Regions from separate parts of the Homo sapiens genome. Here all the other regions are linked to region 2. Evidence: fine-mapped expression QTL. A gene starts in region 2. Each other region holds a variant in brackets. All regions are shown on one strand. Distances are from middle to middle. Region 1 holds the start of COL27A1 (collagen type XXVII alpha 1 chain). Region 2 holds the start of KIF12 (kinesin family member 12). Region 3 overlaps ZNF618 (zinc finger protein 618).

Region 1 (9,934 bases), 54 kb before region 2:
AGGGAGGCCCTGCCGATTCTTTTGCTCCCGTTCCAATCCTGTTTAGGCTACTGCTAATCATGGTTAGTGCCTGTGCTGGCTCAGGGCTTTGTTCTTCCAGACTTCTGTTTTCACCACTTGTCTTGTGGGCCTTGTCTCTGCAAACCCAGGGCTCCAGAATGTCAGGAAGACCAGAGCACAGAGGCCAGGGAGGCCAGGAGGCAGCCGAAACGGGAGCCGCGAGGAAACATCACATGGAAACATCGTCTGGCCACACAGCCCTCCAAAGAGGAAACCCAGGTGTTTCTATGCCCTTGCAAAAGGCCCTCTGCCAGTGCACCAAATGGGGCTACTCCTGGGTAACCACACTGCCAGAACCGGCAGACTGCTTGGATAGTTTTCTTCCATCCTTATTACCTGGAAACACACAGGATCTTAGAAACCCACACCAGCTTCAACAGTCACTGAGGGCTCTGAGCTGAGACCCAGGCCACAGAAACACACAGGGAAAGTGGCCCTGTGGACACTAGGCTTGGCTGTTCACGCATGGGGTAAAAGCTGAAAAGGGAGCTAGCTGGAACTACAGCTCATCAAGTGGGGTGGACCTGTCCCACCTGCCTCCATGGACTGGCCAGACCCCCTGTGCCCAGACGGCTATGCCTGGGCTTTCTTCACAGCTTCCACGTCCTCCATGGGAACACAGACAGGTCATCGTCTGGAGAGGATGCAGCCCAGAACTTTCCCATTGACTCACACACCCATTCAACATGAAGGGAATAATACAAATACCAGCTGCCGTTTACTGAGCACTTATTACATGCCAGGCCCTGTTCTAAGCCCTTTACAAGCATGGTCCTGTTCATCTTCACAAAACCCAGCCAGCTAGGAATAAGGTGCCGGTTTTGTGGAAGAGAAAAACAAGCAGCAGAGTGGCTCACCCAAGCTGGCACAGCAGAGTTAGGATTCAAACTCGAGCCTGCCTGATGGCAAGCCTCATGGCCCTCCTGTGGTGCCGCCTGCCTCCCACCAACATGATTCTGTGAGTGTCTCACTGCTGTCCCCTACCACCAGTGGATATGTTACTCTGCGTAGCCAAGCCAGGCATGTGGGTATCAAGAGGGTCCCTGGACAGAGATGGAGGAGAGAAAATGCCAACAAAGAACAGGGGAGTGTGCTCAGAAAGGGACAGAGACCACCAGGAGGCTGCTGGCTGCTGAGGGTCCGCAGCGCTGGTGGAGGCACAGGAGAGGGAGAATGTTCTGAGTACAGGGAGGAAACAGAAGGAGGCAGAGGCCAGGGATGTGTCCATAGACATGACATGGAGTTTGGTCCGGCCAGAAGGGTCCAGGAGCAGAGGCATGCTGGAGAGCAGAGGCATGCTGGAGAGCAGAGGTATGCTGGCGCCAGAGCGCACATGATGCAGGACAACGTGATGTCAAGGGAGGCAGGGAGGCAGGAGAAGGCAGAGACTGGGCCTCCGAGCAGTGTTGACTGCCCACTTGCCCACAGCTGGAGCCCCACCATGGGGTGCTCGCCTGGCACCACTTTTCTGCCCAACTGCTGGCATCTACCCTGGCGCAGGGTCTTCTGGAGAAAATGAGTCAGCAGTGTGCTCACTGGTGCCGCGCGCGCGTATGTGTGTGTGTGTGTGTGTGTGTGTGTGTTGTGGTGAGGGGGTGCGGGGCGGGGGAATCGCAAACAGCCAGCTTTTTCCAAGACATGGGGAAGAAAGGAGGGGGTGTCATCCCGCGGACTCCAGCTCAAAGGGGGCAGGGCCCAGCTACAGCCCTAACAGCCTCTGGGGAGTGTCCTGGTGTCCTGGGGGCAGGATGGAAAGAGAGGAGCGCCGTCCACAGGCCCCAACGGGCTGCTTGCATGCTGCTGGCTCCCACACACACCCACACGCTGCGCCGGCTCCAGCACAGGCTCACTCTCTCTTACAACTCCTACTCCACACGCTGGGAATCCCAGCCTCTGGGCCCCAGCTCCGCGCAGCCGCTCCTGGGAGAGTCCCTGCCCCTCTCCGGCCCTGTCTCCCGATCTGTACACTGAGGGGTTCCGCACAGTGATCGCCCAGGGCCCTTTCTGCTCTGACATGCTGGCTCTCACTTTTTCTCTCTTACACACGTGAAAGGGACAGGAACCGAGAAGCAGGAAACACAGACACACAGACCCAGGCCGACTAACACAAACACGCGGAGATTTCCAGAAACGCGGGGACGTGCAGAGCCACACAGACACGGAGACAGGAGCAGAACCCGAGACCTGGTGACCTAGAAACTTGCGGACAATTTCACAAGAACAGATAGAAACGGAGACGTACAGGCTTGGGACCTGCAGACACTGAGACACCGGAACACACCGAGACGGCCCCAAACGGAGACCCCCCTCCTCCCCCAAGCATCCAAAAAGCCCCCCTCCGCACCCCGCCGGCCGCTCCAGGCGCCACCACCCACCCCCACCCCCGACCCCCGGGCTGGCTCTGCCCCCGCCCCAACGGGATCGGGCAGCCGGGCCAGGCGCGGCAGGGCGGGCAGCGTTCGCCAACTCTCGCCCGGCCGGGGGCGCAGCCCCTATTAACCCTTGGCGTCCCGCCTCGCGGGGGCGCAGGAAGGGGCAGGAAGCTGACGTTCCGCTGGAAGCGACCGCATGGCGGGGAACCCCGGCCCTCCCCGAGATTGGAGCAGCAGGAAGCTAGGGAGGGGGCGTCCCCGAGTTCGTACTCACCCCCCGCGCGCCGCCGCCGCCGCCGCTGTGCCTCGGGCCCCCCGCGCCGATCCCGCTCCCATGGCAGGCCCCTACTTCATGCTCCCGAGCCCGGGGGGCAAGTGTGGGCGCGCCCCATGGGGCCGCCAGCCCCCCGCCCCGCCGCGCCAGGCCGGCTTAGAGCGCGCGGCCCCCGCGCCCCCAGCGCAGCCCCGCGCCCAGGGGCGCCCGAGCAGGCAGGCAGCGCGGCTGGGGCCCCGCGGGCGCCCGCGCCAGGCCCATGGTCCCAGGAGTCCGGGCGCCGCGCTCGCCCCTGCCTCGGTCCTTTTCTGCTTCCACCAAAAAGGAAGAAGAAGCAAGAAAAAGAGAGAGAGAGATGATCAAACTTTTGGAGGCGGGCTGCTGGCGGTCCCCGGAGGCAGAGCAAGGCCGGGTGAGGGCGCGCGGAGGGCGGTGGAAGCTGCCTCCCCGCCGGCCTGGGGGAGGAGAGGAAAAGGAAGGATTTGGGGGAAATGAAGGCGATTTAAAGTCTCGGCCCGCGGTGGCTCTCCACCTTCCCTCCTCCCCGCTCCCGGCCGCCCTCTGCTGCCCCCTGCTGCCCCCTGCCGGCCGGAGCCAAGGGTACAGCCTCAGCTGGCCCACTACAGCCCCGATGGGACACCCGCCCCCCTCCTCCTTGTATAGATGGGGAAACAGATTCACAGAGAGGAAGGGGCTGCCCAGGGCTTCACGGTGATTTGATCACCGTTCTGAGATTAGGAACTTCTGACTGGTGAGGCTGGGGGTCCTCCAATGGGGGGTTGGGGTAGGGGAGAAGGGCCAAATTCTACTCCTGGAAGAAACCCACAGTTTCAGGGACGGAGCTAGGACCAGAACTTGGTGTCCAGACGCCCACGACAACCAGTATCGTGATCCCCACCGCCCACCAAAAGTTTGCGCTCCCAGACTCGGAGCGCCCTGGAGAACATATAGGGTGGGCTTGTTAAGGGTTTGCCACCCTCTCTCTCCCTTCTGTCAGCAATTGGAATCTAACCGCACCCCACCACCACCACTAACCACGCACCTCCCCAGAATCGACAAAAACTCCCTCGGATCCCATCCGGGAGCTAAGAGCTGCACACCTTGGCCCCCGGGCAAATTCTCACACCCAAAACTCCAGTCCAGCCCTGGGACCACAGCTCCCTCCGCCTCTACCACCTCTTGCCACTCGTTCACGAGCAAAGTTACACTTATTCACCGGTGCACACACACACTCCCACACGTATCCACCCTTTCCCCAAACTCAGACACACGCTCACACACGGTCCCATTCTGGGACAGCCACGCACCCTTCCTAGGTTCACACGAAACGCATCCTCAGATATCTGGGCTCAGGCGCACGCTGATACTCTACACTCGCAGAAGCATGCACACGGATGCTTACACAGGCACAAATGCACGCTATCCTGGCCATATCGCCCCCACACATGTACACACCCCGGGTGGACACACGCGCGCACACCCTCACTTGCACACAGTTCTCCGAGAGTGCCCACCGCACATGTGCACACACGCATTCACTCCTCACGCGTGTACCCACCTCCCCATACGCGCACACCTTTAGGCGCGCGCACACACAGGCATATAACACTTCGCACCGCTCCAGGAGCCCCCAAGCACTTACTGGGTCCCTACGTGCGAGGCTGGCCGGTCGGTCCTTCCTCCGGCGCCTAACGGCATTTGTATTCATGGGTCCCCGCAGCCGTGGGCGCGGGGGCGGGGGGCGAGGTCCCCTTCCCTAAACGGGGCGCGGGCGCGCGGAGCGCAGCGGCACCGGGAGGGGCATGGGCGCGCGGGACTGCGCCGCCGACCCGGTCCGCCTGCGCTCGAACTTCGGCAGCTCTGCGTCCACGGGCTCCGGCGCGGGCTCCGAGAGCTGGGGGCGGCTCATAGGTGCTGGGGCGGCGGCGCCCGCCGGGCCTTTTGAAGTCTCCGCTGGGGGCGGGGAGGGGGCGCTGAAGGCGGCCTTTTAAACCCTGGCTGCACGCGGGCTCGGTCGAGCAAGGTGTCTGGTTTCAACAAACTTTAGGAAAAGTCCCAAGCCGAGAGAGGGGAGGTAGGGGGGTTGGGGGAGCTGCATAGCTGTGCGCTGCTTCCTGCAGAGGGCAGAGCACCCATGGCTGCCAGGAGGGAGGCCAGTCGCGGGACTGGGGAACTGGCAGGCTGCTGGCCGGCGCGTGGAACCACCCCCGCCACCCCCGCACCCCCAATGTTGAACCAGAGTTCTTAACTTCCATGTGCACGAACCCCAGGGAGTGCAGGAACACCCCCAAACTGTGCACAAATTGAGCATGTTTGTGCATTCTTCAGGGGAGAGGGGCCGTGGGCTTTCCTCCGGTTTTCAGAAGTCCACGGCCCCCTAAGGTTGAGAACTCCCTCTTCAATCATAACTGATGTTTTTTTAGTTGCATACTTGGTACCATGCAGACCCTGTCTTTATTTACATTTTAGATATTTTGTTCATTGTGGGGTTTTGCATTAATTTTGATACTTTTAAAAATATTTTAAAAGTAAAAAATTAAAATATTATTTTGATTACTTAGGGGTTTGGGGCACTGCTTTGGGCAATTTACCTCCGTTGCTGAGTTTTCTTGGCATCTCCTGGTATGCTGCATCTCTGCATGTGCCACACCCTAGTCCAGACCCTGACCCACACAGTGCTGGGGTTTAAGGGAGGCCTGCTTTTTTCTCTCCATTTACAGATGG[G/A]AAAGCTGACATAAACGGGTAGGTGGTAGAGGTGGGATTTGAACCCAGGTAACCTAACTCCAAACTTCTGCATCTTGTCATAAGGATCCAAATCTTAGGCTTTAAGGGGTTCTGTGCAGATCCTCAGCAGCCTCCCCAGCTTCAGATCCGGCCTCCTGAGCTCCAGTCTCTCTGATACCTGCACCCAGGCTCAGGTAAGCTTGACTACTTCGATGCTTTCTCCATACTGTTTCCTCCCAGGTTCTCCCTCTGCCCCTTTTCTGCCTGTTCACAACCTGGTTATTCTTCTAGGTGCAGGCCAGAGCTCACCTGACTCTGGTGAGCTGCTCTGCCCTACACCGGGATTGCAGCACACATCACATGGCGCTGTCATTGTCAGATCCATCTCTGTGTCCCCACACCCAGCCTGACACATGGAGCCTGGGATACAATAGATGCTCAAACCGTTGGTAATTTAAATAAGTTATTTGTTTTAACTCCTACAGTATGCAAACCCCTGTACAAGACTCTGGGGGAAAAGGGTCTGCCACTGTGGGGGCAGGGACAAAAATTTCCATATGGTCCTGCCTTCTGGTCATGCACGCATTTGTAATGTGGACAGGAGACACGCACAGCAACTTGGGGTAGGGAAGAGAGTCTGGATGGGAGACATCAGACATCACTATGTCATGGAGAACCCCCTGCAACTGCATAAAGGTAAGATAATATAAGGAGAATGTGATAAATGCCACCAAAGAGATGCAGATCAATTGAATTGTGAAGCTGATTAAGGGATGGAAAGAAACCGAGGAAGGCCCCCAGGAGGAGGTGGCATTTGGATCTTAAAGGGTGTGTTGGATAAATGTGCAGCCACAGAGGAGAAGGACATCTCCGGTGAAAGAGTCACAAAAAGACCAAGAGGACAGAGTTGGATTTCAGGCAGGTTTTGAAGGAGGATTGAGGCGGTGGGGCCCAGTGAGAAACTGGGGAAACTGTCCAGTTCTCCCCACTGTATTGTGTGGGTGATACCACACGACTCACTGTCCACAAAGCCATTTCCAGGCAAGGGACTGCATTTCCTGAAAGGTCAGGCAGGCAGCAGGTCAGTGGCTAAGCACCAAGGCCTTTCCAAATTTCACTCACAAATGTGAATAGGCAAGGCTTAGTGCCAGGGAATGCTGCCTGCTTCACCCAGGTCAGCCCAAAAGACCCGTGAGAATGCTATGAGAACCCAAAAGGATTGAGGACATCCCCTCTCAGAGCCTCACTCTGCCCATCTGTAAAATAGGTGCATCAAACGTGATGATCTGTGTGGGCCCTTTGAGCTTGGAGGCATGAGACTGTCCTTCAACAAGAAATCCAATTATGTATGTGAATATTGAGGGCTAACTGCATTTTGCTAGGTCGGGAGGGAAATGAGGCTCATGGCCTTCCAGGAGCTCATGGGCAGCTGAGAAGAGGAGGCAGGGACACTGGGGAGAATTCCAAGGAAGGGCCTTGTATCCTGCCTCTGCCGTCTCCCCACAAGCAGTCTTCCTGCCAGGCAGGTTCTTGGCGCAGAGCCAGTGACTGGGCATGAACTGTTCTGATGGACGTTGAATCTGGAAGACACCAAGCCATTACCCACCCTTCAAAGGGGACAGCACACTCACCAAACAGCCCTAAGGGGCCCATTTCTATGGGGCAGAAGGCAGTAAGCCTGGGAACCAGGTGGGCAGGGGCTGCCAGGCCTCTGTAGATGCCTCAGGATGAGAATTCCTGGCCTGGTGGGGACTTTCAGGGAACACATAGTTTGTTCCCTGCTCAAGCAGCTCAGCCATGGACCCATCGGTCTCTGTGGCACATCTGCCTTAGGAGAAGCTGTTGGTTGCAATAGCTTTAATGTTGGGCACACAGTAGATGCTCACAAAATATTTATGAATGAACCACTAGATGAAGTGTTTGTTTTGTTTTGTTTTGTTTTGTTTTTTGGTAGAGACAGGGTCTCACTTTGTTGCCCAGGCTGGTCTTGAACTCCTGGGCTCCAGCAATACTGCCACCTTGGCCTCCCAAAGTACTGGGATTACAGGCATGAGCCACTGCACCTGGCCCTAGAGGAAGTCTTAACCTGCAGGACAGAGGTTGCATACTGCCCCAAGTATCAATCCACGTCCGTTTACCCACCAAGCTGCTTCTGAAGACCCACTGTGCACCAGGCTGGGTTTTCTGCTCTAGAAGCGCTATGGTCTGAGGAAGGAGGCCAGCAAAGAGAAAGACAGATAAAAAATGCAGGTCAGGAAGTCCTGCCTCAAATCAAGCCTGTTTAAGTGGTACTGCAGGGCTTGGAGGAGAACCAGATTCCTCCCACTAGGAGAAGAGCTAGAGTCTGCCAGTCTTTCCAATACCCTGCACTGCTGTGGGCATACCAGGCTGGGTCTTTCTTTCATTTGGCGGCCCCACCCTGCGTGTAGCAAAGGATACGCACACAATACATGTCTAACCATGGAGTCATTCTTTCCCTGGTAGGGAGATGCTGTCACGCATCAGGCCCTGAGCTGGCCACTGGCAAATACAAGCTGTGGTCCCTGCTGGACGCGGCTGCCTTGTTTAGCTTCTGACAACAACACAAAGCACAGTGCCTGGCACATAGGAAGTTCTCCACAAGTGCTGAGCGAATGACGGAATGAAGGCCTGAATGAAAACATGAAAGAAAGTAAATTCAGCAGATTAGACCAGGTTAACCCCCGCTGCCACCTCCTCCCTCTCCTCCATGATGACCCTCACCCACCAACAGATATTTGTTAGGCACGTGCAGACCCAAAGCATATGGAAGACCCGATTTTAGGTGCTGTAGATATACTGAAGAGCATACACACAAAGCATCTGTCTTAACAGAGGAAGAGGAAATACACAAATCTGTTATATGACATCAGGTTGTAATGAGTGCTATGAAGACCTCTAAGCAGGGCGTGGAGTGGCAGAATGATGAGTGGGGCCATTTTATTTAAATAGGGGCTATTTTATTTAAATATCACCTTCTCTGAGGAGGTGATGTTTAAGCAGGACAGAAAGAATGGGGGGAAAGAAATGAGCGAGTGAGTCACGTTCAGCAGAAGAACCATGGGAAGGCAAGAATGGGTCCCCACTGACTTTTCATTCCTGTAATTCCTTGGTTAAATGTAGACCTTACATTCCCTGAGGGCAGGAGCTGCTCTGCCCTGCTCATGGCGGTATTCCTAACACCCAGGACAAAGCATTTTGGTAAAATGAACTGAATTCCAGGCTGGAGTGAGGCAGATTCTAATAGTGTCTCTCTCACCCCCTCCAGGCAATGTGGGCCCATTTCTCTCCCCAGGGCAGGTGGCTGGAGTCAGTGCTGGCTGTCCTCATGGCCCACTGGTCTCCTAGGGCCTGGGTTCTGCCTGCAGGACTACGTCACTCTGGCCTGGTGGCTGCCAAAATTCCAAACACAATCACTCTACCAGAAGGAATAAGGGCAGAGGTCAAAGAAGCTCCCAGGCCACCATTGGGAGGGCAGCACCTTCTAGGCACATGGTCCCACCATCTGGGCCCTTCTGCCTCTTCCCCTCTCTGGGTTTATTTCCCAAGGGCTAGGCCAAGTGGCAAAGGGCTGTGAGATCCAAAGCCCACTTATGGTGGCCAACACTGACCCAGATGTGGGGCCCCGTGAGACTTTTCAGACCTGGAGGAACCTATGGAGCTGCCTAGCCCAAATTCCTCATTTTACAGGTGGGGAAACTGAGTCTCAGAGATAGCATTCATGATTTTCTCAAAGCCACACAAAGTTAATGGTGGGGCTGGTGTGAAGAAGCAGGGCCCCCCACCTTTGTGTCTAACCGCAGAGGGTCAAACCTGTCTCTCCAGCCTTCAGCACAGTTAGTCATCCTTGGAAGAATTAGATCCATTTTCCAGATGTGAGCACTGTGGCAAGTTAAGGTCTCTGGCCTCTGCCCGGTAATGTGTCCGGAACCATTGGCTATACCAGACAAGCCATTAGTGATGAGTTCTGGGCCACCCCCAGCAGCCCAGGGTGGGGATGAAAGCAACTGATGATTTCAGGCCTTGGCTCCTGTGGCCACCTCCGCCTAGAAATGCCCTTCCTGCTCTTCTTCACTGGAGTCCTGTCTCGGTGTTCCCTCCGCTCTGCCATGCCAGCCCCCATCCTGCCTGGTACACCACACACCTATACAACAGGGAGCCCTGCAAGGCTACGGCTATGTCTTATGTCCATAGAACCCCTCAGTAAATCTTAGATGGACAAAGGAAAGAAGGGAGGGAAGAATCAGGGAAGGAAGGAGGGAGGGAAGAGAGGCAGAGCTGGGGGTGGGTTGACCATCATCCAAGGACATCCCTGCAACAGGGGCGGACACTGTTGTTGTGTCCTTGCTAACAGAGTTTCATCTTCATCCAACCTCTTTGTCCTTCAGTGGAGACCGTGTCCCTCCCAAACCCCAAGGGTTGAACCCTATTTGAACAAAGCCTAGCATGGTGGCCTCCTTCCTCTGGCCAGTGAGTGGCTTGGTCA
Region 2 (9,934 bases):
ATTGGGTATAGTATTTTGTCTATGTCATTTAGATCAAGTTGGGTAACAGTGTTGTTCAAATCTTCTATATTTTTACTAAATTTTTACCTGTTGTTCTTTAGTTACAGAGAAAGTTAGGTTGAGATTAGCATCTATGGTGGTGAATTTGTCTATTCCTTCTGGCAGTTCAGTTATTAGATGAATACAATTTAAGATTATTATGTCTTCCTGTTGAATCACATAATATAATAAAATGCTTCGCAGTGTCTCTATTGATGCTTCTTGCATTAGAGTCCATTTCGTCTGATGTTAATGTGGCTGTACTGCTTTCTTTTGGTTAGGGCTGGTGTGATATAACTTTCTATTCTTTCATTTTCAATTGTTTCTTTTCTTAAATTTGAAGTTGGCTTTCATTTTTTTCAATATAGAAACATTTTGTTTCTTGTATCCAGTCTGACAATGTTTGTCTTTTATTTGAAGTGTCCAGCCCATGTACAATTAATATACTTGCTGATATAATTGGGTTTAATTGTATCTTGTTATTTGTTTCTTATTTGTTCCATTTATTCTTTGTGACTTTCTTTCTTTCTTTGTTTTTTTTTTTTTTTTTTTTTTTTTTTTTTTGAGATGGGGTCTTACTCTGTTGCTCAGGCTGGAGTGCAGTGGCACGATCACGGCTCACTGCAGCCTTGACCTGGGCTCAGGCGATCCTCCCACCTCAGCCTCCCAAGTAGCTGGGACTACAGTCCTGTGCCACCATACTCAGCTGATTTTTGTATTTTTTGTAGAGATGGCTTTTTTCCATGTTGCCCAGGCTGCTCTTGAACTCCTGGGCTCAAGCAATCCACCTGTCTCAGCCTCCCAAAATGCTAGGATTACAGGTGTGAGCTACCGTACCCGACATCTTTGTGACTTTATATCTCATTTTTTGTCTTCTTTTGAATCAGTCAAGTAGTTTTAATTCATTTTTCTCTATTAGCTTCTTAGTTTTAACTCTTGTTTTTGTGATAGTTACCTTAAAGATGTCACTATACATCCCTGAACTACTACAGTCTACCTTAAGTTAGTACTTTTATCACTTCCCAAACAATTGAAGAACCAATGCTACAATTCTATGGTTTAACTCCATTCACTCCACTTATCCTTTATTCTAGTGTAATGTCTGTTTGCTTCTATATATATTATAATGGTAGCAAAAAGTTAGTGTTACTTTCTTTTAAACAGTCAAAATGATTCTTTTTTTTTGAGACAAAGCCTTACTCTGTCACCCGGACTGGAGTACAGTGGCATGATCTCGGCCCACAGCAACCTCCACCACCTGGGTTCAAGTAATTCTCCCGCCTCAGCCTCCCTAGTAGCTGGTATTCCAGGCGCCCACCACCATGCCCGGCTAATTTTTGTATTTTTAGTAGAGACAGGGTTTCACCATGTTGGCCAGACTGATCTTGAACTCCTGACCCCAGGTGATCCACCCCCCTCAGCCTCCCAAAGTGCTGGGATTACAGGCATGAGCCACCGTGCCTGGCCTCAAAATGATTTTATATACATCCTATATTTATTCTTTCTCATGCTCTTTATTTTTTCCTTGAGCTCTATCTCATTCAACATATAAAAATTTCCTTCAGTATTTCTTGTAGTGATGATCAACTGGAGGTGAATTTCTCAGCTTCTGTTTGTTCAAAAATGTCTATTTTACCTACATTTGTGAAGGATACTTTTGCTAGACATATAATTCCAGGTTGATTTTTGTTTTTTAATCTCAGCATTTTAAAGATACACTGTCTATTGTCTGTTGGCATCCATAGTTTCTATTCAAAAGTAGTTGTCAGTCTTCTTATTGCTACTTTGAAGGCTATGGTTTTTTCCCTAAGGCTGCTTTTATGGTTTCTTCTTTGTCTTTGGTTTTCAGCAGCTTAAGATGTGCTAGATATTTCTTTATATTTAATCTTTAAAGTGGGCTACAAGGTTGCACATAACCAGGCTCCTATTAACTTTATAATCTTTTTCTTTTTTTTTTTTTTTTTTGAGATGGAGTCTTGCTTTGTCACCCAGGCTGGAGTGCAGTGGTGCCATCTTGACTCACTGCAACTTCTGACTCCCAGGTTCAAGTGGTTCTTCTGACTCAGCCTCCTGAGTAGCTGGGATTACAGGCCTGTGCCACCATGCCTGGCTAATTTTGTATTTTTAGTAGAGACAGGATTTCACCACGTTGGTCAGGCTGGTCTCAAACTCCTGATCTCGTGATTTGCCCACTTCGGCCTCCCAAAGTGTTGGGATTATAGGCATGAGCCACTGCACCCAGCCACCTTTATGATCTTTTGTCTCCCACTCTTCCCTTGCTAACTGTGTTCCAACCACCCTGGCCTTCTTCCATTCCTTGAACACACACTGGTCATACTCCACCTCAGGACCTTTGCATCGGACAATTCTTCTGCCTAGGATAATCTTCCCCCAAATATTTGCATGACTAACTCACATTCGTCCTTGAAGTCTTTCCTCAAAAGTCACCTTCTCAATGAGGTATTCCATGACTATACTATATAAACAACAACCTGTTCGCCATCGCCAACACTGAGTGATACTATTTCCGTAGCACTTTTCAGCTTTTAACATACTATGTAAGTTATTTATATGCTTATTTTTATTATCTGCCTTTCCCACCTCACTAGAGGGTAAGCTCCATAAGGGCAAGAATTTTTATCTGTTTTGTTCACTAATGTATGCATCTCAAGTGCCTAGAAACCTGCCTGACACCTAGAGGAGGCTTAATAAAAACTTGCTCATGACTGTTCAATTTAAGGGTAGCAGATGTTTGCACTCACTGTTAGAGAACAGAACCAGGACTTTGCTCCTGCATTTGTGATTCAAAGGACATCAAATCATGTACACATTCTGACCCAGGTTGGGAAGCCTGGTGCACAAGCCCCCACTGACCAGCATGCAACATATCCCCTGTTTCTGCACTTTTATCAAAATCCTTTCAAGGTTGGGCATGGTGGCTCATGCCTGTAATCCCAGCACTTTGGGAGGTTGAGGTGGGTGGATCACCTGAGGTCAAGAGTTTGAGACCAGCCTGGCCAACATGGTGAAACCCTCCCTGTCTTTACTAAAAATACTAAAGTTAGCTGGGCGTAGTGGTGAGTACCTATAATCCCAGCTACTTGGGAGGCTGAGGCAGGAGAATCACTTGGATCCAGAAGGTGGAGGTTGCAGTGAGCCAGGATCGCAACATTGCATTCCAGCCTGGGTGATAAGAGAGAAACTGCATCTCCAAAACAAAACAAAACAAAACAAAAAAAACAAAAATCCCTTCAGCGTGGCTCATCTCAGTCCAGCCTGAGGAGGGCCAGCAATCTGACTAAACCAATGCACACTAAGATGCTAGTGATTGATAGTCTTTAACACTTTCAACAGCTTTTAAAGGAGCACCTTGTTCATTTACTGGGTTTACTCCTGACAAAAGCAACTTGCCATAGCAAGCAGCATCAGGATGTACAGCTCATAGTTCTGGGTTTAAACTCTCAGTTCTGCCATTTGTTGTTTTCTCCTTAGATAACTTTCCCTGCCTTTCGCTGTTTAGTTCAGTTTTTTTTCCTCTGAAAAACAGGGATAGTAATTTTTGTCTTATCCACCTCAAGGACTCAAAAAATAGATTAAGGAACTTCAGAGTTGAAAGGGAACTTAGAGATCATCTAGGAATTTTTATTTTTGTTTTTAGGTAATTATTTACAACTTTCACTTTCAATGACACATCTCATTGAAATCTCAGAACAACTATGTCAAATAGGAGAGAAGTCATTAATCTCTTTTTACAGGAAGGAAACAAGAGAAGCCAAGACTGTGGCAAGTTAGTGGCAGAGCTGGGGGCAGTGGTTATTAGTTCTACAGAACTTTCCCTGTGGCCCCTGCTAGAGGGTCCTATAACCAAAAGGTCAAATGGCTCTTTCTTATACATCTCCATTGCCTGGGGAGCTCACTGCCATCCAAGACAGCCCATTCTCCAGCAGGGTGGCTTTGATAGTTGGCTGTAATTTGTGGTGGTATAGAATGTGTCACATTGAGAAAAAGTGATTTTTAGGGCTTTCACCCTAATGTGTGTTTGGGGGCCGGAGAGTTTGCAGAAATATTCAGAGAACATACAAAGACAGCCAGAATGACAATAATAATAACAATGCCAACCTGATGGTGTCACATCCCTGTTTATAACCCTTCAATGGCTTCCTGGTTCCCTGAAGAGTGAGTCCAGACTCCTTGATGTGCCCACCATAAGCTAGATCCAGCCTCAAACTACCTCTCCATGCCACACTCATCTCCCCACCCCACCCTGGCCATCCTGACTCCTGTTTGCTTTGCCTGGAATACCCTCACCTCCTCCCCACCCCCACTGGCTCCTACAGGCCTCTGTACTCCCCCTAAAGGCCCTACACGCTGCTGGGTTGTACTTATCCATCTCCCCAGACACACTGTGAGCTGGGAAGGGTCAGGGGCTGCATGGGGTTCCTCTGCCCTGGTGCCCAGCATGGAGACTGGTACAGAATAAGTGATTGCCCCATCCCTGCACATTCACAGACATCTCTGCTGTTCTCATAAGCCAGACCAGGAGAGGGTTAAACAATCATGCTGGCCTAGGATTAACTTTGGCATTAGAGAGGCAGGTGCCCCAGTGTTTTACCAGATGCTTGGAAACCTGTTCTCAGGTCAGCTCAGAGATTCAATCCAGCCAGGTCGTCCCTAGAGCTGACTGAGACCTGTGCCACTCCTTGGGCCCTGAGCTGAGCTGCTGGGGGTGGGAGTGGGGGGTATGTGGAGAGGGTGGGAAAAGCTTGGTCCTGTGCAGGCTAGCTCTGTGGCCTTGGTTGAGTCCTTCCTATCTGCTTAGGTATCCCCAACTGGGCACAAAGGAGGCCGGTCTGGGTGGTCCCACGGGTTCCTCTTGTGAGGACTGGCCAAGAGCAAGGGATCCTCAGACTCCAGAACCCCCTAGCTAGGGGTCCCCTAGCTTGGGAGAGACTTTCTCCACCGCAGGGGTGAGGAAGGGTAAATCTTTAACGAGCTAGCCCTGGGCAGCTGGAGTCTTTCCGGATGGATGGCTGCCTGGGATGGGGGATGGGGTGGGAATGCAAGATGTGTGTAGACAGTCCCAGTGTTGTGGAGAAGGGAGGGTATTGGTGGGGGGTAAATAAAGGAGACGCGGGCGGAGCTAACTCCGTGTGCAGAGCAGGACATGGAAGAACGCGGGTCACCCGACGGGTAAGCAGATCTTCAGACAGGTTCGAGGAGTCCTGAACAGCCGCTAGGTGCAGGTATGATAAGTCGCATTGCTGCCCACAGGGATCTCGCGCGGAGCCTGGAGCAAGGGCCAGAGGGGCCGGAAACGCCCATCCAGGTGGTGCTCAGGTGGGTATAAATTGGCTAGGAGGCACCTGGGCGAGACAAGGATCGAGGAAGACATCAGGATGTACCATCTGCCCTTCTGTCGGACCCCAGGGTACGTCCCATGAGCGCGGCCGAGCTGCGTCGAGGGCAGCAGAGCGTGCTGCACTGCTCAGGGACCCGGACTCTGCAGGTGAGGAACCCCTCTCTCTATCTCCCCAATAAAAAATCCCGGGGACGCCAGATCCCTTCCCCCAGGCAACTTTGCCCTAGGCCCCGCGCTCCCCCGGAGTGGTCCTCTCCCAGGTGCCCCGCCCTCCCCAGAGTGCCCCTCCCTTCCAGGATGCCCAGCCCTCCGCCAGGGTGCGCCGCGCCAACCCCTGCGAGTGCCCCGCCCCTTCTGAGTGCCCGCCCACCCAAGGTGCCCGCCCCCCCCAGAATGCCCCGCCCCTCCAGGGTGTCCTACCCTCCCCAGAATGCCCCGGCCCTAGTGAGTGTCCCCCACCCCACCCCCAACCCAGGGTGCTCGCCCACCGAGTGCCTCACCGAGCGCCCTACCCTTCTCCAGGGTGCCCCGCCCTCCTCCAGAGTGCCCCGCCCTCCTCCCGCGTGCCCCGCCCTCCTCCACGGTGCCCCGCCCCTCCAGGGTGCCCCGCCCTCCTCCAGAGTGCCCCGCTCCTCCGCCCCACCCGCGCCAGGTGAGTCCTCCAGGCGGGGGTCCAGAAGTGGCGTTCCGCTTCGGTGCGGTGCTAGACGCGGCGCGCACGCAGGAGGACGTGTTCCGGGCGTGCGGCGTGCGGCGCCTGGGGGAGCTGGCGCTGCGCGGGTGAGTGAAGCTTCGCCTCCGCTCCGCGCCGGGCCTGGCGGGGCCCCGAAGCACCCCCAGCCCCCACCCCGGGTAGCCGCCGGAGTCCAGCCACGCCCTTGCCGCCCGCAGTTTCTCCTGCACTGTTTTCACCTTTGGCCAGACGGGCTCTGGGAAGACCTACACCCTGACTGGACCCCCTCCCCAGGTGAGCGAGCGCCGGCGGCGCCCCCGCGGGGCGGGGCTGGGTGGGCTGGAAGCCCTGGGGAGCCGCAGGCGGCGCAGACTCCCAGAGGGAAGGGGCTGGGACGACGCCGCCTGACCCGCTTGTTTGCAGACGAGGACGCTGAGGACCAAAGAGAAGGGACTTGCCCAATTTGGAGCATTTGGGCTTCAACTTTGGCCCCTTCCTAGCTCTCAGTTTTCTCATCTGTAAAATGGAAGTGACAGTACCGACTATGAATTAAATGAGCCATTGTTTGGGAACTTGGCACGTTTCCCGGCGCACGGTATCATACATGCGCTACAGAGGGTAGTTATTACTGTGGAGATGACGATGGCTCAGCTGGTTTTGCCCCTAGGGGGAGGGGGTGCCTGTACCCCCCAGCCTGGCTGGCATCATGCAGAGGACCTTCGCCTGGCTGTTGGACCGCGTGCAGCACCTGGGTGCCCCTGTCACCCTTCGCGCCTCTTATCTGGAGATCTACAATGAGCAGGTAAGGGAATGAGAGGAATAGAAAGACAGCCCATGAGGAAACGGAGCGCTTCTTTCCAGGGAGCCTGGATCAAAGGACAGAAGAGGCGGTGGGGACTGTTGTCAGTAAGATCTGGGGATGGGTGGACTCAGAAAGATCCCCTTCCCTCACCCTCCTCCCTCCCCTCCCAGGTTCGGGACTTGCTGAGCCTGGGGTCTCCCCGGCCCCTCCCTGTTCGCTGGAACAAGACTCGGGGCTTCTATGTGGAGCAGCTGCGGGTGGTGGAATTTGGGAGTCTGGAGGCCCTGATGGAACTTTTGCAAACGGGTGTGTGCTGACAGCGGGGAGTTTTGCGGGTAGGGGTGCCCATTCCTCAGTTGTTCACTGAGTGTGGACTTGGGGCCCAGACTGCAGCTGCAGCTTCAGAAATGATTCCTGGGGGAGGTGGGGAAGGACCAGTAAACCACAATTCAAAGGCATGGCCCAAGGGCCTCCCCGCACTGCCAACAAGGCCTGCTAATTCTGCCTTCCAAACTCCTTTCACACCCTCTCCTCTCTAGCCCAGGGCCTCGGCCTCCGCCAGGACTCATTCTTGCTCCCTGGTGGTCTCTGCACCTCAAGGCTCTCCCCTGCCCATCCATTCTCCTCTATGCTGCAAACCCCATCTCTCTTTGCCTCCAGACCCTCCACCCTTCCAGGGCCCTGAGGATCAAGGTCATACCTCTTAGCCTAGCCTAAAGGCCCTTTCAGCCTCATTCTTTTTTTTAAATCAAGTATTTATTGGGCACCCCTCCTTTGGCAGGCACTGGAGATGCTGACTGTGGATTCTGGCCCCAGCACTGTGCCACACCTCTCAGCTGATCTCCTGCCTCAGTTTCTCCCCTTCCTTTCACGAAGCAGTGGGAGAGATGTTTATAAAATGCAAATCTGACTGTCATTCTTCTGCTCAGTTTTCTCTATCCTCCATCCACCCATCTCTGCTAGAGCAGGGCCCAACATCCCATCGTTCCCTGAACAACACCCACTCTGTTGCCTCCCTGCCTTTGCATGAGGCTGACCCTTCCGCCAGGATTCCTTTGCTCCTTTTTCTTCATTGATGATGACCTGTTCTTCCTACCAGGTCCAGCTCCTGATGTTTTTCCCTTCCAGGTCTCAGCCGTCGAAGGAACTCAGCCCACACCCTGAACCAGGCCTCCAGCCGAAGCCATGCCCTGCTCACCCTTTACATCAGCCGTCAAACTGTGAGTGCTCCAGCCTGGGAAGGTGCTTACCCGGGGCCACCAAGCAAGGGTCTGTATCTGGACATATAAACCAACTTGGGTGTGCATGGGGGTTAATAATGGAAACTCTTGGTCCCATAACCTTGTGGCTTTGATGGGGACGGTCCCTCCCAAGTCCCCATGAAGCTCTGATCCCTCAGGCCCAGCAGATGCCTTCTGTGGACCCTGGGGAGCCCCCTGTTGGTGGGAAGCTGTGCTTTGTGGACCTGGCAGGCAGTGAGAAGGTAGCAGCCACGGGATCCCGTGGGGAGCTGATGCTTGAGGCTAACAGCATCAACCGAAGCCTGCTGGCCCTGGGTGAGACCTGGGGGCCACCGGTGTGATTTCCTGTCTCTCCTCTGTGCCTGGCTCACAGCTCTCCACAGTGGGGGATACCAGAGGAGTTGTAGTAAATAGAAGAGGGTTAAAGAGCTGCGATCCAGGAACCAAAGGCCCCATTCTGGCCCCAGCTCTGCTGTTGACTTCTCCCTTCGTAAAACACTGCTTATGAATGTATAAACTCTAAGGGTGTATAAAGTTCCATGCTAATTTGGGAAATAGAACCACTCAACTGCAGAAGATGAACCCTCAGAGACATTTGGCATGTCCCTTGTGCAGTTGGGAAGACTGAGGCCTAGTAAGGGGAAGGGACTTGAGCTTTCTCCCCAACCCCACCCCAGGGTATTGGACCTGGAGATCCTCAGGGGCTGTGCCCTCAGTATTCCTCTGTGGCATGCATGTGAGATGCCCGCGAAACTCCTTTGTGTACAATCCATTTGTTAGAAGTTTCCTTCTGAGTGCCTGAGTACCAGGCACTTTGCTGGGCATTGAGGGTCAGGGTATACAGGGCCTTCTCTGCCCTCAAAGAGTCCCAGTCTGGTGGTGGAGACCAATCTGACTGAGTCATGAGATCATGTGGAAAGATGGGTTTTTAGGGCAACACAGGCCTGGGTGGAGAGCCCAACTCTGCAGCATCCCAGCCTGATGGCCCTAGGCAAGTGATGTAACCTTCCTAACTCTTGCTCTCCCTCCCCAGGTCACTGCATCTCCCTGCTGCTGGACCCACAGCGGAAGCAGAGCCACATCCCTTTCCGGGACAGCAAGCTCACCAAGTTGCTGGCAGACTCACTGGGAGGGCGCGGGGTCACCCTCATGGTACTTAAGCGGGGCCTGGCAGGGAAGGTTGGGTCTTGAGGAAGGGGCCCTCAGAGAGGAGCGCTCAGGGGGAGTGCACTCCCCAGGTGGCCTGCGTGTCCCCCTCAGCCCAGTGCCTTCCTGAGACTCTCAGCACCCTGCGATATGCAAGCCGAGCTCAGCGGGTCACCACCCGACCACAGGCCCCCAAGGTGAGTATAGGCAGGCACAAGCTGAGGGACAGGCGTGGAGATGCTGGGGGATCAGGCAGGAGTTGGAGCCTGAGTCCCTTGATTGAAGTCTTGGACTGGGTCAAAGTTGGGATTAGGGTTGGAATCCTGGAATCGGTATCATGGTTGTATAGGATGGGGTCAGGGTCCCAGCCAGGGTCATGCCAGGTTTAGGGCAGGTCTAGGGTTGGAGTTTGAGTTGGGATATGATTCAGGGTCTAGCTCAGTTAGTATCATGGTTAAGTGGGAGTTGATGTGGGGCCTAATGTGGGGTCTCGTTTGGAACCATTATCTGGCCCAAGGTTTGGACAGAACTGAGTTTGGGATTGGACTCACAGCTGAGTCCAGCTCAGAGTGGGGCCCTCCAGGACAGTGCACTTAGGACAAGGTGCCCCTTCCAGGCAGATACAGCCTTGTGCCAAGATGCAAGGCTGACGAATGAAGCATGGGCTGGATTTT
Region 3 (9,934 bases), 170 kb after region 2:
GGAAGTACTGCCATGAAACACCAACTCATTCCAAAACCATTTCCTTATCTCGGGTAACAAGTGAACTAAAGGTTATGTTATTGTCACTAAAGCATAGAGTACTGGAAGAGCTTTGGCCTTATCCCCACTATAAAGCTGGGAAAACTGAGGCCCAGAGAGCACATTTCAGACCTGAATTCAGGATTCCCAGCCCAGCTTGGTCCACCCAACATTTGTCCCTGACAAGAGGCAGGGATACTAAGCAAACCACAGCCCTTACTGTATCCCTGTCTCCCAGCTAATTTAAGGGTGCCACAGCCTCCAGCAGAGTTTTGAAATAGGAGAACATCAACACCTACCAGGTGAGGACTTTCAATTTCAGCCCTGATATGTACAGAGCTTGGAAGTCATCACTCCCATCCTTACAACAAGAAAAAAGCTGCAAAAACTGAAAATCAACAAGTTTTCTTAGATATATCAGAGGATTGAGGCCACAGAGCAAACCACCCTGAAATCTGCAGAGACAGTCAACTGCAGAGAAATACAGCTTACCAGGAGCTGCAGTGGCTGGGGCTGGTAACTGGTAGGAACGTTTAAACAGTAACTGACTTAGCTGCTAGAAGCTGAGTATGCACTAGCTTGAGAGTTAAAATCTGGGGTCCAGTCTTAGGGGAGTCATCACATTTTCATAGATTTTAACTCCAGGAGCTTGAACAGGTTCTCATGGTGGAGATTAGACAATAATCCCATTGTCCTTCAGTGAGATGAATGTGGAGTTGGGGGTGGAAAATAACCATTTAAAATACACCAGGGGAAAAGTGATCATTCTGAAATAGCATAGAGTGTGCTGTTCTCCAGAGCAAAGGCCTGCCCTTGAAAGAATCTACCTTACCACAGACTTATCTGACCTAAGGGAAGGACAACTGGACAACTCCAGCCTGTCGAGCCTTCCTATCTCACATAAAGGGAGAAGAAAAGGCTATGAAATTTTTCTGAAGATCACAGCCCAGGGATGCAGGCCCACTTAAAAAATAATAATAATTGAGATTGAATCATGAGAGTATAGACTACTTCCTCTCCCTAATACTTAACCACATCAAAAAGACTCCAATATAATAAGAGTGGATTACAAATGAGACAGCTGCAAGACACAGATTCTATTTAAGAAGGAGTTTCTAGGGAAATCTAAAGACAACAGGAAAAGGGAGAGAAAACAAAAAACAAAGAAAAGAGGAAATTGAAGCTTCTGGCATCTCCAGCTACAGCGAACATTAAACACAGAACAGTTCCTAGCCACATAAACATAAAACTTCACACTAATATCCTCATGACCTCTGTTTCTATTAATAGATACGTCAGGTCTGGCTTTCAACAAAAAAATTACATGGTATTCTAAAAGGCAAGGAAAGAAACACAACCTGAAGAGAGACAGCAGACATCAGAACTGGCTTAGATATGACACAGACTTTGGAACTGTCAGATAAGCAATTGTAAATAACTACGATTAATATGTTTAGGGTTCTAATGGAAAAATTAGACAACATCCAAAAACAGATGGTTAACATAAGCAAAGAGATGGAAACTATAGGAAAGAATGAAACGAAAACACAAGAAATCAGATACACAGCAACAGAAATGGAGAATGCCTTTAATGAGCTCATCAGTAGCTGGATATAGCTGATAAAAAACAAAAATCACTGCATTGGAAGAGTTCAATAGGAACTATCCAAACTGAAGTACAAAGAGATTTTCAAAAAGAGATGATACAAACTTCTGGTTTCCATTCCAACATGTAAAGAGCTTGGAGGCTGTCACTCCATGCCTCGTAACAAGAAAAAAACCTTAACAAACTGAAACTAAACAACTTTTTAGATCCATCAGAGAACTGAGGTCACAGAGCAAACCACTGCCCCTAAAAGTGGAGAGACAGCAAATAAAGAGAATTGCAACTTAAGACAAGCTGATGAACTCGCTTGAAAGACGAAAACTTCCATGAGCTTCACCAGCTTCTCAGAGTTAAGATGGAAGAAAAATCTCCTCATGGTGGGGTAGGGACAAAGTAACATTTTGAAATACCTGCAGAACATACTGTTCTATTCAACAAAAGCCTGCCCTCAAGGGAAACTATTTACTAGGGTCTAACCAAAGTGGGTTTTACCAGGGTCTGATTGATATGGGGGAAGGGAAATGTCCTTCTCCAACCCCTCTAGTTTTCAACACAAGGGAAAGGAAAATATCCAACTCCAGACTCCTCTAGCCTTCCTGTCTCACCTAAGGGGTTAAAGAAAAATTTCACAAGCACATGTAAAGGTCACGACACAGGGGCACAGGCCCACTAAAAGACTGAGAACCAATGAGAGGATTCTAGAACACTACCCCTCGCCCAGTCCTTAGCACCACATCAACAGGACTCCTGTATGCTAATGGGATCACAGCTGAAAGAACTACAAGGATTGGTCACTATTTAAGGAATCTCTAAAGAAACCCAAAGACAACAGGTGAGACAAAAACAAGGACCAGAGAGGAAATTTTAGCCTCTGACACTGACAGCTACAATAAATTGTAAACACAGCCTAATTCCTAGCCTGATAAACATAAAACCTCACACTAAAGGCCTATTTACCTCAGTTCCTTTTACCTAATACATCATGCAAGGCTTTAAACCTCACATTAAAATGCTGATTACCTCTGTACCTACTACTAGATACAACATGTCCAGCTTTCAACAAAAAATTATAAGGCATGTTAAAAGGCAAAAAACTGAACAGCTACAGTAAGAGGCATCAGAACCAGACTCGGATATGACATAGACTTGGGAATTTATTTACTTTTTATTTATTTATTTTTGAGACAGGGTCTCATTCTGTTGCCCAGGCTGGAGTGCAGGGGTGCGATCTCAGCTCATTGTAACATCTGCCTCCCAGGCTCAAGTGATCCTCCCACCTCAGCCTCCTGAGTAGCTGAGACTATAGGCACATGCCACCATACTCAGCTAATTTTTGTATTTTTTGTAAAGACAGGGTTTCACCATGTTGCACAGGCTGGTCTTGAACTCTTGAGCTCAAGCGATCCACCCATCTTGGCCTTCCAAAATGCTGGGATTACAAGCATGAGCTACAGTGCAGATTTGGGAATTTAAAATACCAGTAAAAAATACACAAAGTGCTCTAATGGAAAAGGTGGACAACATGCAAGAACTGCTGATAATATAAGCAGAGAGATGGAAACTAAGAGAGAATCAAAAGAAATTGCTAAAAACAGAAATTTCATAAATAGAAAAAACAGAGAAAAAAGAGTGTAAAAAATAGAGCCAAATATCCAAAAACTGTGAGATAACTACAAAAGGTATAGCATAAATGTAATGGTAATACCAGAAAGAAAAGAAAGAAAAAACAGAAGAAATATTTGAAGTAGCAATGGCTGAGAATTTTCCAAAATTAATGACAGACACAAAACCACAGATCCAGGAAGCTCAGAGAGCACCAAGCAGAACAAAAACCAAAAAAACTGTATCCCAGCGTATCATACTCAAATTGCAGAAAATAAAAGACAAAAAGAAAATATTGAAATATTTTTGCAAAAGGGGTCCAAAAAACCTTACTTATAAGAAGAATAAGGATAAGAATTACATTGGATTTCTCTCCAGAAATCATGCAAGCAAGAAGATAGGTGAAATACTGAAAGTCCTAAAAGAAAAAAAAAAAAAACAACACCAACCTAGAAATCTGATCCAGTGAAATTATCCTACCAACATGAAGGAGAAATAACAAAAAACAAAATTTGAGGGAATTTGTTGCCAGAA[G/A]ATCTGCCTTGCAGGAAATATTTTTAAAAGTTCTTCAGAGAGAAGGTAAGTAATTTGGGTCAGAAACTCAAACAAACAGAAAGAGAAGGACAGTGTTAAAGAAGGAATAAATAAGAGTAAAATAAAATCTTTTATTTTTCTCATTCTTACCTAACAGATAACAGTTTGTTCAAAATAGTAACACCAACAGGATACTGGATGATTATACCATGTGGATAAATGAAATGAATGACAGCAATGTTATAAGGGAAGGGAGGGAAGAATTGGGACTACTCTGTTATAAGATATGTGGCACTAACCATGAAGCGTCAAAGTGTTACTTGAAAGTGGACTCAGATTAACTGTACATGTATACTGCACACTCTAAGGAAAATCACTATTTTTAAAAAATAATTGATATGTTGAAAGGGAAGAAAATAGAATCATATAAAATGCTGCAGAGAAGGGAGAAAAAGAATGGAAGACAAAAGAAGAAACAAAGAACAAGGGCAACAAATAGAAAACAATTATAAATGTGGTAATATTAATATACCATATCAATCACTTTAAATGTGAATGGTCTAAATGCCAATAAAAAGACAGAGATCATCAGAAAGGATTGAAAAAAAAAAAAAGACCCAACTAACTACATGCTGTCTATAAGAAACTCACTTTAAATATAAAAATGCAGATATATTTGGATTAAAAGTAAAGGTTTGGAGAAAGATATACCATACTAAGACTAATTAAAAAAACCTAGAGTAGCTATATTAATTTCAGACAAAGCAGAAGTCAGAGCAAGGAAAATTATCAGGGATAAAGAGGGGCATTACATAATGATAAAGGGGTCAATTCTCCAAGAAGACATAAGAATCTTTAATGTGTATGTACCTAACACAGAAACAAAATATGTGAAGCAAAAACAGAACTGCAAGGAGAAATAGACAAATCCACCATCAATATCCTCTAGCAACAACTGACAGATCCAGCAAGTAGAAAATCAGTATCTAGTTAAATTAAACAACATCATCAATCAACTGGATCTAATTGACATTATTATAGGGTATTGCATCCAACAACACCACAATACACATTCTTCTCAAGGACACACAGAACATTCACCAAGATAGTCACATTTTAGGCCCAAAAGAGCACCCTAACGAGATTAAAAGAACAGAAACCACACAAAATCTGCTCTAAGATCACAATGGAATTAAACCAGAAATCAATAAGAGAAAGACTGCCAGAAAATTCCAAAATATTTGGAGACTAAATAACACACTTCTAAATAACACACAGGTCAATGCAGAAATCTCAAGAGAAATTAAAAACTATTATGAACTAAGCGAAAATGAAAATACAATTATCAACATTTATGGGAAGCAGCAAGTGCAGTGATTAGAGGAAATTTTATAGCACTGAATGCAATATAAAATCAATAATCTGAGCATCTACCTTAGAAAACTAGAGAAAGAAGAACAATATAAACCAAAGGCAAGCAGAAGAAATCATAAAAATTAGAGCAGAAATCAATGAAATTTAAAACAGGAAATGAGTAGAGAAAATTAATGAAACTAATGGCTCATTATTTGAAAAGATCAATAAAATTGATAAGCCTCTAGCCAGGCTAACCAAGACCAAAAAAAAAAAAAAAGAAGAAGAAGAAGAAGAAGAAGAAGACACAAATTACTAACATCAGAAATCGAACGGGGTCATCACTACTGATCTCATGGACATTAAAAGGATGATCAAAGGAATGTTATATACAACTCCTTGCCCACAAATTTGGTAATTTAGATAAAATGGACCAATTCCTTGAAAGACACAGGCTACCAAAACTCAGATAAGGAGAAACATATCATCTAAAAATGCCTGTATCTATTAATATAAAGGAAACTGAATCCATAATTAATAAACTTTCAAAAAAGAAAGCCCTAAGTCCAAGTGGTGAATTGTACCAAACCCTTAAGGACAAAATGATACCAATTCTCTACAATCTCTTCCATGAAGTAGAAGCAGAGAGAAAACTTCCTAACTCATTCTACGACACTAACATTACTCTAATGCAAGTTTAGCATCCCTAATCCAAACATCTTAAATCCAAAGTGCTCCAAAATCTGAAACTTGTTGACTGCCAAGATGATACTCAAAGGAAATGCTCACTGAAGCATTTCAAATTTTGGATTTTTGGATTAAGGGTGCCCAATCAGTAAATATAATGCAAATATTCCAAAATCTGAAAAGAAGTCTGAAATCCAAAATACTTCAGGTCCCAGGCATTTCAGATAAGGGATACTCAATCTGTACCAAAACCAGATAAAGACATTACAAAAAAGGAAAACTACAGACCAATGTCTCTTCTGAACAAAGGTGGATAAATGATCAACAAAATAGTACAAAATTGAACCTAAAAATGTTTTAAAAAGTGTATGCCCTGACCAAATGGGATTTATTCTTAGAGTTCAAGACTGGTTTACCACTTGAAAATCAATAGTGTAACCCATCACATCAACAGGCTAAAAAAGAATAGTCACAGGATCATATCATAGATGTGCATTTAACAAGATTTGACACTCATTCATAATAAAAACTCTTAGCAAGCTAGGAAAAGAGGGTAACTTCCTCAACTTGATCAAGAACATCTACAAAAAACCTACAGCTAACATCATATTTAACGGAGAGAAACTAAATGTCTTCCCCCTAAGATCGGGAACAAGGCAAAGATGTCCTCTCTCATAATTCCTATTCAATGTCATAGTGGAAGTCGTAGCTAATGCAGTAAGACAAGAAAAGGAAATAAAAGGTATACAGATTGTAAAAACAAAACAAAACAAAAAAAATTTCTTTATTCACAGATAATATGATTGTCCATATAGAAAATCCCAAATAATCCATTTTAAAAACTGGAACTAATAAGTGATTATAGGAAGCTTGCAGGATACTAGAGTCAATTGCTTTCACATATCCCAGCAATGAAGAACTGGGATCTGAAATTAAAAACACAATGCCATTTTTATTAGTGCCAAAAAAATAAAAACGTAGGTATAAATACTTAACAAAACATGTACAGGATATCCACGGAAAACTACAAAACTCTGATGAAAAAAATCAAAGAAGATCTAAATAAATAAAGAGATATTCCATGTTCATGGAGGGAAGACTCCGTATTGTTAAGATTTCATTTCTTTCCAACTTTATCTAAAGATTTGATACAATCCCAATCACAAGTCCAGAAGTTGTTCTGTGCATATCAACAAACTGATTCTAAAGTGTATATACTGAAAGGCAAAAGACCCAGAATAGCCAATACAATCCCAAAGAACAACAATAAAGTTGGAGGATTGACACTACCCAGCTTCGAGACTTACTATAAAGGTACAGTAAACAAGACAGTGTAGTGTTGGTGAAAGAATAAACAAGTAGATCACAATAAACAGAACAGACAGAATAAGCAGAATAGAAAGCCCAAAAATATACCCAAACTAATATAGTCAACTGATATTTGACAAAGGCACAAAGGTAATTCAAAGGAGTAAGGATACTCTTTTCAACAAATGTTGCTGGAACTGGGCATCCGCATGCAAAAAAAAAAAAAAAAAAACAAACCAAAACAAAACCCTCTCCGGCCTGCCCCTGTCTGCCAGTGTACATAACTTAGGACACCAACCACAACCACTTTCTTTGGATAGAAGGTATTGGCCCTCTGGGCAGCTGCCAACTTATCTTCCCTCTGCCCCGTCCAGCCCTCCATTTCATACCTAACCACTCCACAGTGAGATCAAAACTCTCAGAGCCCATGACGACTTTCACTATCAGTTTCAGGCCTTTCCTCAGTCCCATTTCTGTTCCAATTTCTTCTCTTCCTTTTATCTGCATAAATTGTCCCCTGGAGAAATTGTGTTTATTTTTTGTTCCCTGGTTTATCCCCAGGATCACACACAGAGTAGGAGTTCAATAAATACTTCTTGAATGAACAAGCTTTTAAGTTATGTACATGTCATATGTGTTTTCAGTACATACATCAAAGTATCGATACATCAAAAATCAACATCCAAAGTGATTATCTCTGCATGGGAAAGTTATGGGTGATTTTGATTTTTTTATTCCTTTTTGCTCATTGGAACTTCCTAACTGTTCAACAGCGAACATGTATTGCTTTGGATAATACAAATAACAGGAAAAAAAAACCCTCCCTACAACATAAGAAAGGCCAGGTTTATACAAAGGAAGCATCCGAAGTGATGATTCACTTTATAGAAGGCATCTTTTGCTTTGTAGAAAGCTTTGTCATAAAAATATTTTATGTAAGGAGTAGTCAAAAAAAGGATTTGATCTGTGGGACACTTCAGAATGATGAAGTTCAGAAAGTCCCATTTCCCCTGAGAAGAACAGAAGCTGTTCCTTCTTCCTTCTTTCCAGATCATGTTCTGTTTCCCCATCTTCTCAAGGAAGACCACAGCACATTCCCAGCTGGTCAGTTCCAAGCTCAGTGACTCCTAACTCTGTTTGCCTCCGGGGTTTCATCTTCAGATGTGGGTGTTTCGAGACTCTGGAAAACCAGACTGGATTCTCTGCTGGGCCATAACCATGAAGAAGCCTTTCAAGGGACTGGCTAAAGAGAGAACACCCTCAGCCTAACATGTGGATGGCTAAATCAACTCTGAATCTCTGACCTCATGAAAACCCTTCCACTCAGTGAAACCAGACATCATACAGGCAGTCCCCAACAAATGCTACCCTGGGACAGGCTTGCCTGTGTGCTTTGCACTCATTCTCTCTGAAGTCCAGAGCAGAATCTAGGTGCATAACACTGGCCTGATTTTACAGATGGGGAAACGGACCAGAAAGGCGAGATAATTTGCCTAGGAACACCCAGGTATTAGGTGGGAGACACAGGACCCAGGATTCCAGCCTTGGTCTAATGGATGCCAAAGCTGCAAGATAAATGAATACATATGCTCAAGTAACTTTTTAAAATAGCAAAGGTATTCAACATCTGATCTGTGTCAGGTTCTAAGAGACACATGCTGAGCTGGAGCCACCAATAGGTCAGCCATTGCCCCTAACCTGATGGAGCGTGCATGCTAGCAAGGGAAACACACCACACAACTGACTTCCACTTGTGAAATGGGCTACCCAGGTAGCACTGTCACCCTCAGCTAGGTGGGACACAAATGTATGGCTTAGCAAAACTACAACTAGCCACATGGCAAACTGCACAAATCTCCAATGCTAAATCCTATTGATACTATCACAAACTGTCATTGATGTGGCTCTTCCCATGTGCTAGGTACTGTGCTTGCCACTTCATATCCATTCTTTCATTTAATCCTTACCACCACCTTATGATGTAAACTCATTAAAAATTGCGACTCTTGGCCTCGCACAGTGGCTCATGCCTGTAATCTCAACACTTTGGGAGGCCAAGGCAGGCAGATCAGCTGAGGTCAGGAGTTTGAGACCAATCTGGCCAACATGGTGAAACCCTGTCTCTACTAAAAATAAAAAAATTAGCCAGGCATGGTGGCGGGCGCCTGTAATCCCAGCTACGTGGGAGGCCGAGGCAGGACAATCGCTTGAACCTAGAAGGTGGAAGTTCCAATGAACCGAGATCACACCACTGAACTCCAGTCTGGGCAACAGAGTGAGACTATCTCAAAAAAAAAAAAAAAATTGTGACTCTGAAAATAAGTAAAAAATCAAGATCTACTTCTGTGTTACAGTACCTTCTCCCAAGCACTACAGCACACTACATGGACTGCACCCCGCAGGCTCCTCCCCACCATAAATCACCATTAAGGGGTCTCCTAGCCCCTAAAGGGCTCCACGCCAATAGCCTCACTTGAAACAAAAGTGTCAGAGATCAAGCAGGTGACTTCTGCATCGCCATGGCAACTGGCTGAATGAGGCCTGTCAGGAACTTGGGAGTACAAAGGCCCAAGGGAGAATGAACTTGGGATACCTGGGATCTCTTCCAACAGTGATTCCCCACTCTGGACCCAGGAGCTATAGAGGCCCTGACATTCAGGCCAGGGCCCTGGTGCTCCCCAGGTTCAAAGGTCCAACCAGGTGTCAGGCCCCTGTGTAGCCCAGGCTGGACCAGACCCTGGCTGCAGCCTTCAGCATCCCCACCCACGAGGATGGCATAAGAAGGTGAGCCTGGGGTGACGCGAA

The links.
Region 1: its variant is fine-mapped to the expression of KIF12 in hippocampus (GTEx, PIP 0.91).
Region 3: its variant is fine-mapped to the expression of KIF12 in unexposed skin (GTEx, PIP above 0.99).

The regions. Positions count from the first base shown.
Region 1 is chr9:114,148,785-114,158,718 of GRCh38, reverse strand. It overlaps COL27A1 (collagen type XXVII alpha 1 chain), which reads right to left and starts at 3,182. Exons shown (of 61, transcript NM_032888.4): 1 at 2,707-3,182. The coding sequence starts at 2,768. It overlaps LOC105376225 (a long non-coding RNA gene), which reads left to right and starts at 4,451. Exons shown (of 5, transcript XR_930256.3): 1 at 4,451-5,624; 2 at 5,722-5,879; 3 at 6,032-6,126. RefSeq lists silencers at 2,016-2,310, 3,198-3,317 and an enhancer at 4,854-5,375. The variant G/A (reference allele first, on the strand shown) is at 5,431.
Region 2 is chr9:114,094,546-114,104,479 of GRCh38, reverse strand. It overlaps KIF12 (kinesin family member 12), which reads left to right and starts at 5,188. Exons shown (of 19, transcript NM_001388308.1): 1 at 5,188-5,229; 2 at 5,311-5,376; 3 at 5,467-5,545; 4 at 6,051-6,178; 5 at 6,290-6,365; 6 at 6,739-6,873; 7 at 7,044-7,179; 8 at 8,002-8,093; 9 at 8,273-8,429; 10 at 9,148-9,266; 11 at 9,353-9,457. The coding sequence starts at 5,204. LOC124902251 (a long non-coding RNA gene) reads right to left here and starts at 6,125. Exons shown (of 2, transcript XR_007061740.1): 1 at 6,042-6,125; 2 at 3,661-5,402. RefSeq lists an enhancer at 4,864-5,399.
Region 3 is chr9:113,919,905-113,929,838 of GRCh38, reverse strand. All of the region lies in intron 1 of ZNF618 (zinc finger protein 618), which reads right to left. Among named protein-coding and RNA genes, the nearest start is that of ZNF618, 49 kb to the right of the region's middle. The variant G/A (reference allele first, on the strand shown) is at 3,782.